3 separate regions of the Homo sapiens genome follow, and regions 2 and 3 are each linked to region 1. The links come from fine-mapping of genetic effects on gene expression. A gene starts in region 1. Each other region holds a variant in brackets. All regions are shown on one strand. Distances are between the middles of the regions. Region 1 holds the start of CSGALNACT2 (chondroitin sulfate N-acetylgalactosaminyltransferase 2). Region 2 has its middle 22 kb from the start of RET. Region 3 overlaps RASGEF1A (RasGEF domain family member 1A).

Region 1 (6,305 bases):
TGATATGGGTTAGGTAACACTGGGTCACATGCTTCCCCCCGCCGCTTTGCGATAGGGTCTTGCTCTGCCACCAAGGCTAGAGTGCCCGTGGTGCAATCATGGCTCACTGCAGCCTCAACCTCCTGGGCGCAAGTGATCCTCCCATCTAGCCTCTTGAGTAGCTAGGACTACAGGCACACACCACCATGCCTGGGTTTTTTTTTCCATAGAGATGGAGATCTCACTATGTTGCTCATGCTGGTCTAACTTGTAGGCTCAGGCAGTCCTCACTGATTCACCTTCCAAAATGATGGGATTACAGGTGTGAGCCATAGTGCCTGACCAAAGTATTCTTAATTATTTTATGCATAGTTGCTGATCTTGCCTGGGTTTGGGGAAATCCTTAATTATGGTTATTAATTTAGCTTGGGTCTAAGGTTTAAATTCCACAGTTGTCTGTATATGGGGCTCATGGAGGAATAGGCCTTCAGAGAGGCAGCTGGCATCCTGGGGTCATAGGAGGGTTGTTGTGAAAGGGCAGGGATCTGGACAAGAGGAAGAGAAGTGTGGACAGATGTGTGGAAGGGAAGAGATCAGAAGGATAAGGGGGAGAAGAGGGAGAGCTGTATTAGGGAAGCAAATGGATGATAAGCAGAAGGATTTACTAGGAAAATGAGTCTAGGTTGTTGCTGCTTAAGTTTGCCAAATCGCTCATCAGCTTTAGCCAGAGTCTTTCAGGGAAGCACTTTTTGAATCAGAATATCATTTGGAGACCTCTGACTACCAATCAAAAAAGGCTGCTCATTGGGCCTAAGAAATCTTATTCTCTTTCGTTTCTAAGGCATCTCTCAAATGAGCAATTTTGTTCAAGTTAGATGTTCTCCAAATAAGATCTTCACCAAATCAACCTTGGTGAAGTTAATGCTTTTCAGAGATGGGCGTAAGGATTAGAATTGTTAGAGAGTATATGTAAGAAGCAGGAGTTTTTTCTGGAGGAGGAGATTTAAACTTAGACAACACCATGAATGCTGGCTGGTGAGGCTGGCGAGAAATGGAATGTTTGTGTCTCTCAGGACATGAAAGCGAGACGGAAGGAGAACCTCATTCAGTTTTACTGGAAACCCACAGCAAAGTTTCTCCAAGTAGAGGCCGGTGTGATGAGAACTGCTAAATCATGAGCTGCGAGGCTGGCTCAAACAAGAGGCTTATGAGCCCCATGCCTGTGTCCTTTCCTACGGTTTTCCTTCTTATGACAAGCAGCACTTTTTGACAGCACAACACTAAACACTAACACAAAATACAGTGAAAAGGGATAAAAAGAATGGCCTGATTCCACTAGAGATGCCAGACAAATGAGAATCAATAACAAAACCAGAGTACCAAACTGAGAATAAATAGCCAGAGACCTCCACGCAGAGTGAGGTGAGCCCTAGTGCTGACCACATCGGCGCACCTGATAGGCCGAGAACATGGAGGCATGAGGGGCCTCTGGGTGGCACAATGGGTGGAAGCCTGGGGACCTCAGGGACAAGCAGTACAGACTTACCATGGGATCACCAGGAAAACTGTGGAAACCAGCAAAGGCTATTTATTCACAACTTGCTATAGCAGGGGAATCAGCCAGCATCACTTACTTTTGGTAGAAATTTAAAAGGCCCGAAAGAGATGGGAAACTTTTATTGTTTTGTTTTGTTTAAGTATCAGATTGGAAATTATTGGCAGGAAATGTTTTTAATTACATTTTTCTGATATTAAACCCAACACAGTTGTACTTTAATATTTTCCCTAGGAGAACTACTTATTTTACAACTATATCCCAGTGTATCACCCATGATCAGCCACATAATTTGAATCATGCATTATCTTCTCTCCACATTCAAATTACATACATTTAGTATTTGGCTACTTAAAAAAAAATCATTAAAAAGTAACAATTTAAATCCATTGATGGGAGAACCTCAGTTAGTTTCAAAACAACAATTCTTGCCAGGCGGGGTGACTCACGCCTGTAATGCCAGCACTTTGGGAGGCCGAAGCTGGAAGATCGCTTGAGCCCAGGAGTTCAAGGCCAGCCTAGGCAACAGAGGGAGGCCCCATCTCTACCAAAAAAAATATTAACAATTAGCCGGGCATGGTGGCATGCACCTGTGGTCCCAGCTACTCGGGAGGCTGAGGCGAGAGGATCGCTGGAGTCGGAGGTGGGGAGGCTGCAGTGAACCGTGATCGCTCCACTGCACTCCAGCCTGGGCGACAGAGCGGGACCCTGTCTCAAAAAATAGATGAATAAATAAATAAAAACAATTATAATGGAAGTTTGGATAGGAATTTAAAACATGTGGCAACTAACCCTGACCCTGCGGCTTCAGTCTCCCCGCCGCTAGCTGAGGGCCGTGGCCGCTGCACAGAGGCTTGTGAGGATTCGGGGGTTCAGGCAGCGCCCGCCGCGCATCTGCCAGACGTGCGGCCACAGGGTAGGAGCAGTAAGAAGGATCCAGGGAAAAAAGTCCACGAATGAGAAAGGAAACCCAGCGTTTGTAGGGCTAGGAGAACAAAGAAAGAAAATGCTGGCGGCGGAGGGCGAGGCTCTGCGGTGCGTGGCAGATGGGAATTTGCTCGGTGGCGGCTCCTCTTTCTGGAGAGCTTCCCAGCGTCCCCTCCCCCGCCAGCCCGCGGTGACGCGCCCGGCACCCACCACAGCCGGCTCTCGGCGCCGTCGCGCCTTCGCTCGCCCGCTTAGGCCGTGCTCGCGGTGGCGTGGGAGACAGAGAGCCCAGGGAGGACCCTGGAACATGCAGTGGTATGGAAGACGCCTAAGAAAGGGCTTCTCTTTCCACTCACGAAAATCAGTGTGTGAGCTCGAAGCCATTTCCCAGCGTGTCCGCCTCAACTCCCTCATTCAACAGATGAGGAATTCCTCCAGGGAAATGCAGTGATGCGCTCACGGCTGCCGGCGGCCCAGCGCCAAGGGGCGCTCCACAGCCCCGCGGCCCGAAGCCCTCGACTCGGCTGCCACGCAGGCCCCGCGGCCCCGCTCGGACTCCCAGGATCGGCTTCCGAGCGGGACAGCGCTGCAGTCCACGAGTCCGGGCAGGGGCGCCTCCAGGCCGGAGCGGTTTCCTGCCTCGGGCACTCTGCTGTCTCCACAAACGGTTTTTGGAGGCACACACACGGATACTTTAAACACGTCGGTGATGAATCGGTACCCAGCTGCCAGTGGCGGAGCTTCCTGGGCGGGGCCGCGGGCGCGCGGCGGCTTCATTTCCTCGCGCGCGCCGGAAGTGGCCTCTCAGGCGCGGCGGCGCGCCCGGGGGTGGGTGGCTGAGGCGGCGGCGGGCCCAAGGCGTGAGGCGCCGCCCGGGTGTCCCCGCGGCGCAGGAGGCGGTGGAGCGCAGAGCGGGCGAGCGCGGTGAGTACCTGGCCCGGCCTCGCCCGCCGGTCCGCGACTCCCGCCGGCTCCGGCCCGGGCGGTGCGGGCGCCGGGGCTGCGGGCTCCTGTGTGGTCGGGTGGGGTCGCCTAGCGGACCGGTCCTGCGGGGGGCCCTGTCTCTCAGGGATGAGCCTGCCGGAGTCGGCACCGGTTTTAGGGAAAGCGCGGCCAGAGACGATTGGTTCGCTTGTCAGTGTTGGGTTTTGTTTTGTTTCGTTTTGTTTTTACCTATTCATCACCATCTCTGCTCCTCTCAGTGGATAAACTTTTTAATCAGTGGTGACCTCGTCATCGCGTTAAAATAGTTCTGCCCTCAGCCCCTCTTTATCTGTAGATGGCAGAGCGAGCGCCGGTAAAGATGCTCTGTCGTGGAGGGCTCAGTGGGGCGGAGGAGATGGGGAGCCTCTGGCGTTGTCGGAGAATGCACCTTAAAAATGACTCTACCCTTGAGCAACGCAGGAAGCACGACAGTGATACTTCTGTTTGTGATGATGGTATTGGCGGTATGATAGTTTGATTATACATCTGAAGCTTCTCTTCCTGAGTCCTTGGCTTGTTAAACTTGGAGGTATTTTCTAGCGTGCTTTTGAGATAGATATGGGATGTCGTGACGTTTCACCGTCATTCAAGGCTCGCGGGAGCAGGGCCTTCATGTCTGGTAATTAATGTTGTTTTTTGAATGTTGTATTAAAATAGTAGCTTCGATCTTGGAAGTAAGAAGCCAAGTATTTTAGGACTGAGTGTTAGCGTTCATTTTGTATTATTGTTCTTGTACCATTTGTTTAAAGTTGTCATGTAACTAAAAGAATGAAAAAAGATGGATTTCCAGTATTTGTGGCTCAGAGGATTTTGGCCTAAATAAACACAGTTCCAACCAGTTTAGAAGCTGCATTTTTCTCTTTGTTTTTGTCGAGGCATAAAATACATATGAAATCAATAAGAGCACGAATCTTAATTGTACAGCTCAATGAATTTTTACATACTTATTACCCTGTGGAACCACCAGATATATCAAATTATAACCATAGAACATTTCCATCATCCTATTTTCCTGTGCTTCTTCCAAGTCAGTTATATCCTTGTTTTCCCATCTGTATTCTAACTTCTCTTATCTGCTTTTAGTTTTCTCTGTTTTGAGCTTCATGTTAATGGAATCACGTAGTATTCTCAGCATATTGTTTGTGGGACACACCCATGCTATTTCATGGTATTGTATTATTACTGTGTAATAGTCTATTGAATAATATGTGACTACTCTTCAGTTGATGGACATTTATGTTCCCAATTTTTGTATATGATGTGTTTTGGATATTAAGAATACTGTGGGCCTGGCGTGGTGGCTCAGGCCTTTTATCCCAGCGCTTGGGGAGGCCGAGGCAGGTGGATCACTTGGTCAGGAGTTCGAGACCAGCCTGGCAAACATGGTGAAACCGCATCTCTACTAAAAATACAAAAATTAGCCAGGCGTGGTGGCGGGCGCCTGTAAGCCCAGCTACTTGGGAGGCTGAGGCGGGAGGTGGAGGTTGCAGTGAGCCGAGATCGTGCCACTGCACTCCAGCCTGGACGACAGAGCCTGACTCGGTCTCAAAAAGAAAAGAAAAAAAAAAGAGTACTGTGGACATTCTTGTAAATTAAATGTCTTGGTGAGCATCTGTATGCATTTCTGTCAGCTATAGAATGACTGAGTCATGGCATAAGCAGAAAATTACCAACATGGAGTCATTACCAACCATACCATTACCAACCAAAGGCAGAAAATTTAACCAACATGGAGTCATCTTTTTTTTAATGTAATAGAATTTGTTATTTTAACTAATATAACATTCAAGGTTGGTTTTAAAAAAGCATAACTATTATGAGTTCAAGACGTAAGTGATTCATTCATTACCATGTTATTATTTACCCTTTGAATTGCACATTTATGACTGTCTTCTGTCGGACTGTCATTGTTTGTTTAACTGTTAGACAAGTCTGTTAGAGCTGGTGAGGATCTGACTCTGAAGTTTAGCATAACATTTACTTAAGAACTGTATTACTCAAGTTAGTGGTTTTTTAGAGGAAATGAAATACCAAAAGGATATGACTGAAAGTGGATTGAAGAATCACGGGACTGCAAGTCAAAGAACTTACATTGTTATTGTCATGCTACACAAGCACTAGGTATAAGTGTAAAATTGAATTATAGGGCTAGTTACAAATGTGAATTCACAGCAGGAGTACAGTGATTTTCATATGGACTGAGATACTACTAGCACATTTATAATGTGAACACACAACAAAAATCACTAAACATTTGTGGGAAATCGGTAGCATCTAAGAGAAGCTTCAGACCAAACAAATACAGAACTAGGCACTGAAGCAGTGGAGCTAATGTAAGACAAAAGAAAGCTTTAAAGTAAGTATTAGTATCTTCAAATTTGTTAAGGTATTATGCCTACTGAACACATACAGGCTGCCATGAAAAAAAGCAATTGATTCTTGAATATTTAAACATGGAAAGTAGGAAAGGGCCAGGTGTGGTGGCTCATGCCTGTAATTCCAACACTTTGGAAGGCCGAGGCAGGAGGATCTCTGGATTCCAGGAGTTTGAGAGCAGCCTAGGCAACATAATGAGACCCTGTCTCTACAAATAATTTTTTTTTTTTTTGAGACGGAGTCTGGCTCTGTTGCCCAGGCTGGAGTGCAGTGGCGCCATCTCGGCTTACTGCGAGCTCCACCTCCCAGGTTCACGCCATTCTCCTGCCTCAGCCTCCCGAGTAGCTGGGACTACAGGCGCCCGCCACCATGCCCGGCTAATTTTTGTATTTTTAGTAGAGACGGGTTTCACCATGTTAGCCAGGATAGTCTTGATCTCCTGACCTCATGATCCACCTGCCTCAGCCTCCCAAAGTGTTGGGAT
Region 2 (5,612 bases), 83 kb before region 1:
AACTCCTATACCTCATCTCCCCAGATTCACCACTGTTCACATTTTTCTTCCTGTGTTCTCTTTTTTTTCCCTGTCCCTCCCCCACTCTCTCCACATGTATATGCAATTTCTCTCTTGAACCATTTGGCGATGTTACTTCTATTCACCATGCCTCCTTGCTCCCAAATATTAAATCTTTATCTTCCGTAGACAAGGACATGTTCCTACTTAGCCATGGTACATCTGTCAAGTACTGAATAGGAAAGTTAGCATTGATACAATACTGTTATCTAACCAAAATTCATATTCCAGTTTTGTCAGCTGTCCCAATGTTGTCTTTGACAATAATTTTTTTCCATCCAGGATCACGCTTTGCATCCAATCATCCTGTCCCAGTGGTCTCTTTAAACTGGGACACCCTCCACCTTCCTCTCCTCTAGCATTCACATTTTGGAAGGGAGATTTCCACTTAGGCTGTAGACTGTGCCTCCATTTGGGTTTTTCCACTGTCTCCTCAGGATTAGATTCAGGTCACGCATTTTTGGCAGGAATGCTGCAGACCTACTTCCATGCCCTCCTTGACGCACCACACCAGGATGAATGTGGAAGTTTATTCCATCACTGATGATGATATCAACTTTCACTATTTGGTGAAGTCAGTATTCACTGGGCTTCTCAATTAAAAGGTTATTATTTTTCCTTTTGTAACAAACCAGGACTTTTATGGGCAGATACTTTGAGTCTATGTGATTCCGTGTTCCTGCACAAACTTTCACCCTCAAATTTAGCATCTGCTGATGGTTGTTGTCTGAATCAGTTATTCTAATTGTCAAATGATTATCTTTCTAAATTCCACCTACTTTTACTAGCTGATGCTTTATTATACTATAAGGACAAGCTTTTCCTTATCTTTTTATTTCATATCGTTATTGGATGATGAGCTCATGGAGTCTTATTTTATTCAGGGGCCATAATTCATTCCTATCATTCATTCTGATGCCCAGAATGTCCCAGCTGGGCCAATGGGAGCCCCTTTGCTTGGTTCCTGTGCCCTGTAATATGCTTTCCTTGTTCTCTGAGTCCTTCCTTACTTTCAGTGAGATGTTCTAACCTCATTTTTTTTCTGCTCCAGCCCTGGAAACTTTTCTCCAGGGAGCCCTGGTTCCTTTTAGTGGAGACAGAATTTAGAAACCAAGATGTGAGTGCTGGGTGTGCTCATCGTTACTCTAGAATTCCTGAAGGCCTGGGGATGGAGCGCTCTCATTCTCACTTCGGGGAGAGAGCTGATGCAACAGTTTAAGGGGCATTTGGCCATCCTTGTCAAACGTGGCCATGTGCCCATCTGCACACAGACACACCATTTGCAGGAATCTGTTCGACAAAGAGGAGCACACAAGTGCATAACAACAACCCGTGGAAGCAACCAGAGTGTCCATCAAGGTCAGCTAAAAAAAAAAAAAAAACACTGAGCTCCCTCCCTTTCTAAACGACACTCAGCGTACATTGAAAATAATAAGACTGATTTGTTCAAGTTCAAGAATTACTAAAGGAGAAGAAGCAACTAATAGAGTGGCACATGTAATCTGATTTTTAAATACATTTAAAATAAAATGTGTGTGTGTGTGCGCGCGCATGTATCTTATATACATGAGTGTGTTTGTATAGGAAATACTCTGGAAGGACGAAGTCCAAGCTCCCAAGTAATGTTATCGCTCAGAGAGGGTAGTGAGCAGAGGTATGGAGGCTGGTAATACAAGCAGAAAATTATAGTTTTTATTTCATAAACTTCTGAACTATTTGAAGACTTTATAGCAGCCATATAGTTCCTCTATCTGTAATATTTTTTAAAAGTGTTAAAAGACAATAGGCCAAAAACGACAGCCGGCTCTCTAGCCTACAAAACTGGCCAGCACTGTTGAAATATACTAAAGTAGTTTTAAAAATAAAGAGAAAGGTACTCACCAGAAGTGGGATCAATCGGCCTTGGAAGCAGAGGAAGAAGAGAAGGAAGAGGAAACCTTGGCAGTGTTTATTGTACCTGCCCTGGAGCAGAGGTGGGGCCCTGGCCCATCTTGGTTCTCTGTGAAGTGGCCCTGCAGGCTCTTGGGGACATCCCCAGGCTCTTGGGAACATCCAGCTCCCCAGCTCTGATCCTACCCACCACTGGCTTCCCCTGAGTGGTCCACAGGGGGAGAGGATGTAGTGGCACCAGCCATAGGACCAGAGGTCCCTGACCTGGGCTGTACTGCTCTTCCTCAACTTCTGATCATATAGATGGATCCGCACGTGGTCAGGAGGATGGATTCTGGAGTCAGACTTTCTGAATTCACACCCTGGCTCACCGCTCACTGACTTGGAACTTGGAACATGGCAATTTCCCCCCTACCCAACCTCTCTGTGCCTCTCTGTGCCTCAGTTTCAACATCTGTAAAATGTCCCCATACAGTTGTTGGAAAGGTCAAATTAGTAAATATGCCAAGTGCCTAGGACAGTAGCTAGGATGTAGTAGACTCTCCAAAACGATTGTTTGTGATATTATTCCTAGAAGTCACAGTGGGCACACCCTTCTCTTTTTTCAGAATGTAACAGGAATGAGGCCAGGGTTTTACTCTTAGGTGTGATATTCCTGATCGTTTGCCATAGTGGTGTGTATTCGCTAGGAATGCTTTCAACTGCAACAGTTCCAAACATAGCAGCTTAAACAAATAATGTTTTGTTTTGCCTCCATTTACAAGAGGCCTGCCAGTAGGCAGCTGCTGGCCTGGGTTCAGCAGTTCAACCCCGTCAGAGCTTTGTCTATCTTTCATGCATTCTGCCTCAGGGTTGCAATATGGTTGCCCCAGTGCCTGGCATCACATCTATCTTCAATGTAGGAAGAAAGGAAATGGAAAGAAAAGAGCTGCATTTGGCTCTTTTGACAAGAAAACAAACCTTCTCAAAATATCCCAGCTGACTGCCACTTAGGTCTCATTTACCAGAACTGTGTCATTTGACCACACTTAGTTCAAGAGAGGCTGGGAATATATTTAGACTTTTAGCCTCAATAGTGCAGATCTCAAGGGAAAGGCGGTTGGAAACAGCCTCATGGAGCTTGC[C/T]ACTATTTTCTTTATCCCATTAAGAAGATCCGTATGGCCCATGTTTGAGTGACATGTGTTTGAGTGAGGAATGGTTGGTGGCATACACCAAATGTTTTCTCAGCAGAGGGACCATCCCAGTGTCTCTATCCCGCTCCTACTCTAGGGGTCCAATTAAATGGAGTCCCACCTATTATGAAGCAGCAGCAGGGGAAATTCATCTGTGGGGGCAGCTGGGAGCTCCAGGACTTAGCAAACCTGACAGCCTGTGCAGACCAGGATGCAGGGCTTCCAACCCCAGCCACCTCCCTGCCGAAATGGCCACCACTGCCAGCTCCAGGTTGCTGGAGGAAGCTGGAGGCTGCCAGTTTGCTAGCTCCAGGCTTTGACAGCAAGGGCATCTCTGGTCAGTGCCTCCTGGATTGTTCAACCTGTTTCCATCTTCCAGGCTCTCAGGAGCACTGGGCAGTGCAGTGGGGTGGGGGCTTGGGAGCTCCCATGTGTGACAGACACAGCTCCCAGCTTCCCTTCACATCCGCAATGCAGGCCTGGCTGATGGTATCTAGTTCCTGAGACCCTGCAGTGAACTCAGATCCCAGATACTTTCCCTTGATAACAGCTTCACCTTTTTCATCTCTTTTAACAAATACCAACTCCTGGCTGAAACCCAGACTCCTGGCTGGATACCAAGTCCTGGCTGAAAACCCCTTGCTGCTTCCCAGAAACAGCCTGGTCTGACATGGTCAGTGGAGAAGAGAGTGGGCCTGGTGCCCACAGCCACTTACTGCCTTCTCTGGGCCCCAGTTCCTCCTGGTGAAATCGAGAGGGTGGGTAGGATGCTTCCTGGCTGCCCCCTCTGTGCACAACTGGTGGCTGTGGGTCCTGGTTGCCCCTCTGTGCACACTCTGTGGTTGTGAGTCCTGGCTGCCCCCTCTGTGCAAGCCCAGTGGGTGTGGGTTCTAGTCACCCCCTCTGTGCACACCCGGTAGCTGTGGGTCCTGGTTGCCCTCTCCGTGCACACCCCCTGATGTGGGTCCTCATTGCCCCTCTGTGCACACCTGGTGACTGTGGGTCCTGGTTCCCCACTCCGTGCACACCTGATGGCCATGGGTCCTGGTTGCCCCACTCTGTGCACACTCAGTGGTCACGTGTCCTGGTTGCCCCATTCTGTGCACACTCAGTGGTCATGGGTCCTGGTTGCCCCACTCTGTGCACACCCAGTGGCTGTGGGTCCTGGTTGCCCCACTCTGAGCACACCCAGTGGCTGTGGGTCCTGGTTGCCATCTCTGTGTACAACCTGTGATTGTGGGTCCTGGTTGCCATCTCTGTGTACAACCTGTGATTGTGGGTCCTGGTTGCCCCTCTGTGCACACCCATCTTGCTCCTCATCTGGATGAAGTCACTGCCCATGGTGGCCTCATGCAGCCTGTGATGCTGGGCTCTCACTTGCTCCACTTTCCAGATGAGGAAACTGAGGCTCAGAAAAGCTGTCCCTTGCCTGGATCTGAGCCTGGTCTTGCAGCCCAGAGCTCTTGCCACCTGGCTGCACCCCTGGCAGTGACCAAAATTGTTGGTCCCGACCCAGACCTCAGAGGGTCAGTGAAGAGTGTCCTGGGTTGGCTTCTCCTCCCCTCTGCAAATCCTCTCAGCCCACACTCTTTCAGCTTCTCACAGACCACATGAAATAATGTGATAGATGCAATATGAGATTAGGAGCTGAACCTCACCCAGGTCAGGAAATTCCAAGCGCAGTCTCCCAGCTCAGCTCTGGCTCCCGTATGCTGCCCCCAGGTCGCAGCGGGGTGTGCAGGGGACCATTGCAGGCTGCAGGGGCACCTGCATCCTCTAGAACTTCCTGAAGACCAGACGCTCTGATTTTCCAACCAGCACCAGCCCAGTCATTTCCCTCTGCCTCCCTGGGGACTGTCCCAGCCGCCATCCCTTGCTCCTGCCTCCCTGGGGACTATCCAAGCCACCATCCCTTGCTCCTGCCTCATGCGGGTTTCCTCTCTAGCCAGATCCTCCCCGTCTGTATCCAAAAATACTGTTACTTCCCTGTCCTTAAGACAGTGTGTTTGACTGCTTTGCTTGTTTGTTTGCTCCTCTTGATGGTAAAACTGCTCCAGAGATGTGGCCCCATCTGGGGTTGCCCCACTGAAGCCCTCCACAGAGACTTTGTGACACCTGACCACTAACCTCACCTCGCTAAACTGAGGCAGAGCTTGGCAACAGTGGTGACTCAGTGGCTCAGCCCTCCTCTTGAAACACCATCCTCCCGAGTTCCAGGACCCCTCTGCCAGGCCCCTCCCTCCTTCTCCATCCCCCACACCTCCCCCCATCTTCCCGTGGGGGGACCCAGTGCTCGTCTCTATTCACACTCTACAGACTCCGCGTGACACCAGGCCCCACCTCTGCACCCTCCACCTCAAGGATGGATACACCTTCCGGGCTGTACCCGTGAACCCCAGCCTCCAGGTCTACCCAAAACCTGCTCACCATCACCTTCTCAGGTACAAAAACAGCCCTCTTCCCTCACACCCCCACCGCCCAACCTGTGGT
Region 3 (6,305 bases), 120 kb after region 1:
TGAGCCCCAAGGTGGGAGTGTGCATTCAGGAGGCACACAGGCAGGGGAAACCACTCACAAAGGCAGGAAGGGGGATGGCCAGCTCAGGAGCTGGACGGAGGGGCAGGGCGGGGACGGCAGGAAGGCTCGGAGAGATGAAGGGAGGCACCAGAGAACCACACCACCTGCTAACATGCTCCCTAGAGCACGGGAGCGACCTGGCCTCAACCTCTGCCTCTGCCCCTCTCTGCAGACCCCAGAGGCTCACTGGCAAAATCAGTGTAATGATGCTGGCATCAAAAAGAGGCACATTAAGTCACATGTCAGTGAAACGCCCAGCAGAGCCCTTGGACAGTAGGCTGGTCAGGGGCCCTCCCAGCATCTGGGTATAAATGCACACACCCAGAATGAATGTGTACACCCAGAGCCCCCAGGCACATGACTGTACACCACACCCAGGCCTGGGCACCGGCAGGGTGGACCGAGGGCACCAGCCTCCCCACACCTGCTGCTCCTTCCTCTCCACTCTGCAACCTGGGCCCTGCCTGGCACTGGTGCTGTCCTGGAGATCCCCTCCTGTGTCTTCCCCTGACAGCGTCCCCGGTTGCCTCACATAAGACAGCTCTGCACTCGGTGCACCACCGGATGCATCTGGCGTCCTGCCCAGGGCTGAGAACACTGTGCTGCCCTGGAGTCCAACCCTGGGTGCTATGGCAGGCCAGAGAGCCACTGTGGAACCCTGGTCCCCACGGGCAGGGCCAAGTGGCTCCCCAGACCCAGACCCCACGGAGAAGCTAGGGTCCGCCCCCCTCTCAGGACCCCAGCAGGCAGACTCCCGTGCCCATAGGAGGCCTGGCCACTGTCCCGCCCCCTCCCACCTTTCCCACTGCGGGAGCCAAGGAAGGCACCTGGGTGTGGACTTCTCCTGTACAACTGGGCTCTCCAGACGTCAGCAGGCAGCAGGGCATGTAGCCCTCGACGGCCGTGATCCACAGCGCTCAGCATTCTATTTTTATCATTTAACCCCAAACTTTCTATTCCATTGTTTCTTTGACCCATCATTCAAACATGTGTTTCAAATTTTCTAAATATACAACTCTTTTAGAGTTATCTATTTTGTTATCACTTTCTCTCTTAATTGCACTGTAGTCGGAACACTTGGCCCGAATAGCAGCTTCTTTGACATTTGTGCGGGCATCTCCGAGCCAGCACTGACTGCTCAGCCTGTGCGCACCCACCAGGCTTGGTGGGTGCCTGGTGACCGCAGCTGTGGGTCTCCCCTCCAGGCCCCACCCATGTGGGAGCGCCCTCCCCCTCGGCCCCGCCCCCTCTGGGAAGTGGTTCTGGCTGCCGTGGCCTTTCCATGAAGAACAGCTGGGACCCCTGGCCATACTTGCCAGCACAGTTTACTATCAGCCCTCTCCACCACCACCACTCCCCGCAGGGCAGTTGATCTGGCCCAGGTACCTGCAGGTCACCTCACAGCAGGTCTAACTCACTCCAGCTTGGTCAAGGTAAGCCCAGCTCCCAGAAACACCTAGGCCAGAGGAGGAAGGGGCACGGGGCATAGAAGGCCCTGTCCCCGTAGCGGGGCTGAGCAGGAAGGGCCCTGCCTGCAATGGACAGTGTGGGCAGGACTTGGGCTCTCCCAGGTGCCACCAATGCTCACCTGGCCTGGCCTCGCCAGTGGGGGACTCCACTCCTCATCCAGCCACCCACTGCTAACAGCAATAATAAAATGAATAATTGATGCAGCCCCCTGCCTGCTCTGAGTAATTAACTCATGAAAGCATCAGGGCACCCCCAGAACTCCCAACCTCATCCAAGCCCCATCCTCCCAGCTGGTCCACTCACCCTGCCTCCAGCCCACCCTTCCTCCCCCAGCTCTGAGGGCAGAGGCTTGGGTCCTAGCAACTGGGGCCAACCCTCCTCTCCTCAGCCAGCAAAGCCGGGGCTGCCCAGCTCTCACCCAGAGCCTGGCTCGGGGCTGCACATTACCTTCATCCAGACCACAGCCCTGGGAGAAGCAGGGCTCACAGGGCATGCTCAGAGCACCGGCCAGAAAAAGCTGGGCACAGAACTAGCCTACAGAGAAGTCCAGGCAGGAGAAATCTGGACCTTGGAGTCTGCGTCTGTACAGGGACAAAGTGCAGATCCTCATCCTGGGAAGTACCTGGTGCTGTGGCTGGGCATGTCTCCCCAGGCCCCAAGGAGGAGGCCTGCCCCAGTGCCCCAGCTGTGGCTGGGGTCCAGGACACACCCGGATGCACTCAAGGCTGCCTGACATTCACATTTGGCGGGTCTGGGTACCAGAGACCTGGAGAGCCCCATGGGCAGAGAGAGTGGGGGAGGGTCCACCAGATTTGGGCAGCCTTGGTGGGGGTGGGGAAACAAGCCCTGCTGATAAACCATCAGAACGCGCCCCCTCTCCTCTCCCAGCTCCCGCCAGCCTCCTCCACGGAAGCTACTCTTTGTTAACAGCGTTGCCATGGCAACCAGATCCAGGGAGAACTCTCTCTTCAAGGTAGAGTCTGAGGGTGACACTTGGAGAAACAGAAGTGGTGGTGACAACAAACAGGGTGCTGGCCTCCCAGCCCCACCCCCCAGGATTCCTTCCTGGTCCAGGACCCCAGACACCAGCCCCCCAGACTGTCCCAGAGCTCTCAGGTCTGCTTCCCTCTCCTCTCCTCTCCCTGGCGTGGGTGCAGCAACGTGGCCCAGGCCAGGCACCTCTGCCACACCATGCACGGTGGCTCAGGCACTTCCATGCACCTCCCACGGATGTTCGCTGAATCTGCCAGCATAGCCACTGTCTCGTGGCTGGGCTCCAACAGGCCTGGTGCAGACTAGACCCCAGGGGATCATAGACAAGTACACCCAAGGCGGCTGCTGCAGAGCAGCCCCGGGCCCCCTGCACAGCAGGAAAGTTCAGGAAGGCACCCAAGGAAGGCTGGGAGCCTCCTGGCAGGAGGGAGACCCAGCAGAAGCCATGCCCTGAGTAGGGGAACAGACTGCTGGGTAAGGAGGCCACTGCAAATGTCCTGGCCAGGGGATGGTGGCCCGGCCCACAGAGGTGGCAGTGAGCAGGGAGAGGCAGAAGGGGCAGAAGAGAGGTCTAGAGTGGGGTGTGCTAGACTGGCTGACAACTCCAGGCAAAGGGAAGCTGGCAGAGGGGGTGAGGGAGAGCCAGCTGCCTACCTGCTCAGATGGGGAACCTGGGGCAGGCAAGGTTCAGGGGCGTGATGATGTGCATCGTCACCCGGGAGGCGTCCAGCAGGCTCACACACTGACAGAACCCAGAGGACAGGTGGGGGCTGATGAGAGCTGGAACCGGATCAGCACGGAGGAGGGAACAGATGCTGTGGCTGGGTAGAGGGTTTGAGCCCAGGTCTTGAGGAACAGGGACTTTGAGTGTCCCAGGATGGGAGGAGGAGAACCAGGGGCCGGCCAAGCCCAGGAAATGGGTGTCTGGGAACAAGGCAGTGGACATCCACGGCCTCTCAAGAAGACATCCCTGGACTGAAGGAGGTGTGTGCAGATTGG[C/T]GTGGGTGGGAGTGAGTGGGAAGTGAGGATTCAGAGTGAGCAGAGAACATGTCTTCAAAGTCAGCCCGCACAGGCGACCAGGGTGCGGACGGCTGAGCAAGTTTCGTTGTTTTTAAAAAAGGAAAAGCACCTGTCAACCGGACAGCCACATCTTTGCATCCCACGTATGAAGTGCCCACCCTGGGCTGTTCTGTCTAGAGTCCCAGCCCAGGCCTCTCTTCTTCAAGCTGGTGCTGGCCTCTGCTCCCTGAATTCACAAAGAACCCCACAGCCAGCTCACAAGAGACAAGCAGGTCTCGGAGCCCCTGCTGGCTGCCCTGGGCAGCACAGGCCGGCAGCTCAGCCCCTACCCCAGCCCGGGCAGTGCCCAGGGCAGGGCGGGCAACCACAGGTGGGGAGAAGCTTCCCAGAACAGGATCACTGGGTGTCGTCCTGAGTTGTGCCCAAAGGCACCCATGTGCTTCCTGGGAGGTGCTGCAGCAGAGCCGGGACAACCGGACTACTCTCCCTGCCTGGCTTCCCTCTCCATGGTCCACCGGGCAGGGGTGGCCACAGCAGCAGTCACACCCCCACCCCGTCCATCACAGCACAGGCCCCGCTTGAGTCCTCACACCTGTCCACTCCTGGCCGGTCACCCCTCACAGCCCTCTGTCATGGTGCCTGGAGCAGCCTCTACCAGCCTGTCCCAGGTGGTGAGCCCTGAGGCCAGAGCCCCTCTCCCACTCTGAGCAGGCCAGGACCCCGAGGGGCTTTCGGGCTTCCCTTCACACAGTGCCCGCCAAGCCACTGCTGGCCATACCAGCTGACCTTCCCAAACCCTGCTCCCGGGCTGCTAGCTGGGGAATTCCTGGTGTCCCAGCGCGCAGGGACATTCTGCATGGGTTCCTGGCAGCTCGCCACTCTGGGCCGGCCCAGAGCCCACTCTCACATACCCACAGCCCCAGGCTCTGTGCCCAAAAAGTGGCGACAGGGATACACCCAAAAAGTGGGCAGTGAGCCCTCTCTGGACCCCCGCAGGTCAGGCTGACAGCCATAGGGGAGGGCCTCTGACACCCCCAGCAATCCACCAGTGGGTATCAGAGGCCCTCCTCTATGGCTGTCAGCCCACCAGTGCCACTTCAGTCCCCTCCCTCCGCACATCACACCCTTGCTAGGTAAACACTCATCCTCCCCAGCAGGGAGTGGGCAGGGGAGGGCAGAGGAGCCGGGAGGCAGGCTGGAGTGGGTGGGAGTTACAGGAGGCAGATTGGAAGCTCCAACAGAAAAGCAGCCAGAGTGCCGGACCCAAGCAGATGGCCTCAGGAGAAAAAGGGGGAAGGGGAGGGAGGGTCCGTCAAGGGGCAGCAGGGAGGGGTGGGGGAGAATGCCTTGAGTCTCCTCCCCATCTGCTATCTGCTATGCCCCTGGCACCTACCCCCAGCAGCCCAGCGCCCCTCCCCTGGGGTGGGCCATGCAGAGAAGAGCATCCCTCCACCAGCCCCTCTCCTGAGGACAGTGGGGGGGCCAAACCCCCTGCCCCCATCCCTGCCTTGGCACAGCACCTTCACTTGACCTATTTGACAAATAGGGCTTCTGTGAAACCCACGGTTCTATTGCCAAAAACCAAAGGCCAACCAAAGCTGTCCCATCCTGCCCCTGGCATCATTCTACAGGTGGGGACCGGCGTGCTCAGGGGCTCCTGGCCACACTGTGTCCCAGTGCCCACTCGCTCTCCTCCCTGGCTGGCCCCTCCCACCGCTGGGGGCCACTGTGTGCGTGGCTCTCCCCACCGCAGCCACTGTCCAGCACAAATGCCATTTCTCCCTCCTCCTCCTCCTCCCCTGCCTGCAGTTGCTAAGTTACACCAAAAAACCCCTCTGCTCTGTGTGAACTGTTCCATTTCCACGATTTGCCAGGTGGAAGGGAGCCATCCGGCTGGCAGCTCGAAGATGCCTCCCAGAGAAAAACAAACTCACTGGCTGGCCTTCAGGCCAAGGCACACCTGGGATACCTGCTTGGTTCACAAACCCAGGGGCATGTGCAGGAGGACACAGCTTCTCTACTTCACTAGAGAGCCTGGGGGATCCACACAGCTCATGCCCTTCTCAGGAGCAGGGAGTGTGGGCCTGCTGCACCCGCCTCGCTGGGTCACTACCACCCACAGCCCTAAGGACACACACTGGCTGGAGGGGCAGAGAACCCACCCACGTGTCCCTGGCCATCCAGCCAAGGTCCTCCATGTCCCCCTGCTCCGGATCTCCCCTTCCTGGGCTGGGGTCCTGAGGTTCCAAAGCAAAGTGTCACTGGACATCAGGGTGGAAATGTCCTCAGAGGTCATCAAAACCGTGTCAGTCTACAGATGGGGAAACTGAGTCTCAGAAGCCTGCAGCCTGCCCGTGGTTCACGAATCAAGACCTGTAGCCTTTCGGCTGGAGGCCCCCTAGAGCCGCTTAGAGTCCAGGGCACCGAGGTGGACAGGCTGGGCTGGCAAGACTGCATCCGGAGGGGGCGGGAGAACCCTGGGGGGACAGAGGGAACCAAGGCCTCTGGGAGGCTCCCCTGCACCCAGCCTGACTCCTGTGTTTCAGGATCCTGCGGCCGACGGCCATCGGGGCCCTTCCTGCGCAGGACAGTGGGAGAAGAGTGGCAGTGGTGGGGAGGGTGAACCAGGGAGAAGCTCACTGCTCTGAGCAGGGAGGGAGGGAGCCCCGGCCACCACCAGGTCTCTGCCCCCAGGTGGCTCCCAAGAGGCAGGCAGCGGCCTCTCTGTAAATATCCACCAGGTCCAGCACCCAGAGGCAGCC

The links.
Region 2: its variant is fine-mapped to the expression of CSGALNACT2 in whole blood (TOPMed, PIP above 0.99).
Region 3: its variant is fine-mapped to the expression of CSGALNACT2 in skeletal muscle (GTEx, PIP 0.91).

The regions. Positions count from the first base shown.
Region 1 is chr10:43,135,183-43,141,487 of GRCh38, forward strand. CSGALNACT2 (chondroitin sulfate N-acetylgalactosaminyltransferase 2) reads left to right here and starts at 3,263. Exons shown (of 8, transcript NM_018590.5): 1 at 3,263-3,385. It overlaps CSGALNACT2-DT (CSGALNACT2 divergent transcript), which reads right to left and starts at 3,211. Exons shown (of 1, transcript NR_186456.1): 1 at 1,642-3,211. RefSeq lists silencers at 2,560-2,759, 2,890-2,949, 3,120-3,619, 3,730-3,799.
Region 2 is chr10:43,052,704-43,058,315 of GRCh38, forward strand. No RefSeq gene overlaps it. Among named protein-coding and RNA genes, the nearest start is that of RET, 22 kb to the right of the region's middle. RefSeq lists an enhancer at 3,739-5,612. The variant C/T (reference allele first, on the strand shown) is at 3,075.
Region 3 is chr10:43,259,812-43,266,116 of GRCh38, forward strand. All of the region lies in intron 1 of RASGEF1A (RasGEF domain family member 1A), which reads right to left. Among named protein-coding and RNA genes, the nearest start is that of RASGEF1A, 4.1 kb to the right of the region's middle. RefSeq lists enhancers at 1-339, 5,884-6,305. The variant C/T (reference allele first, on the strand shown) is at 3,523.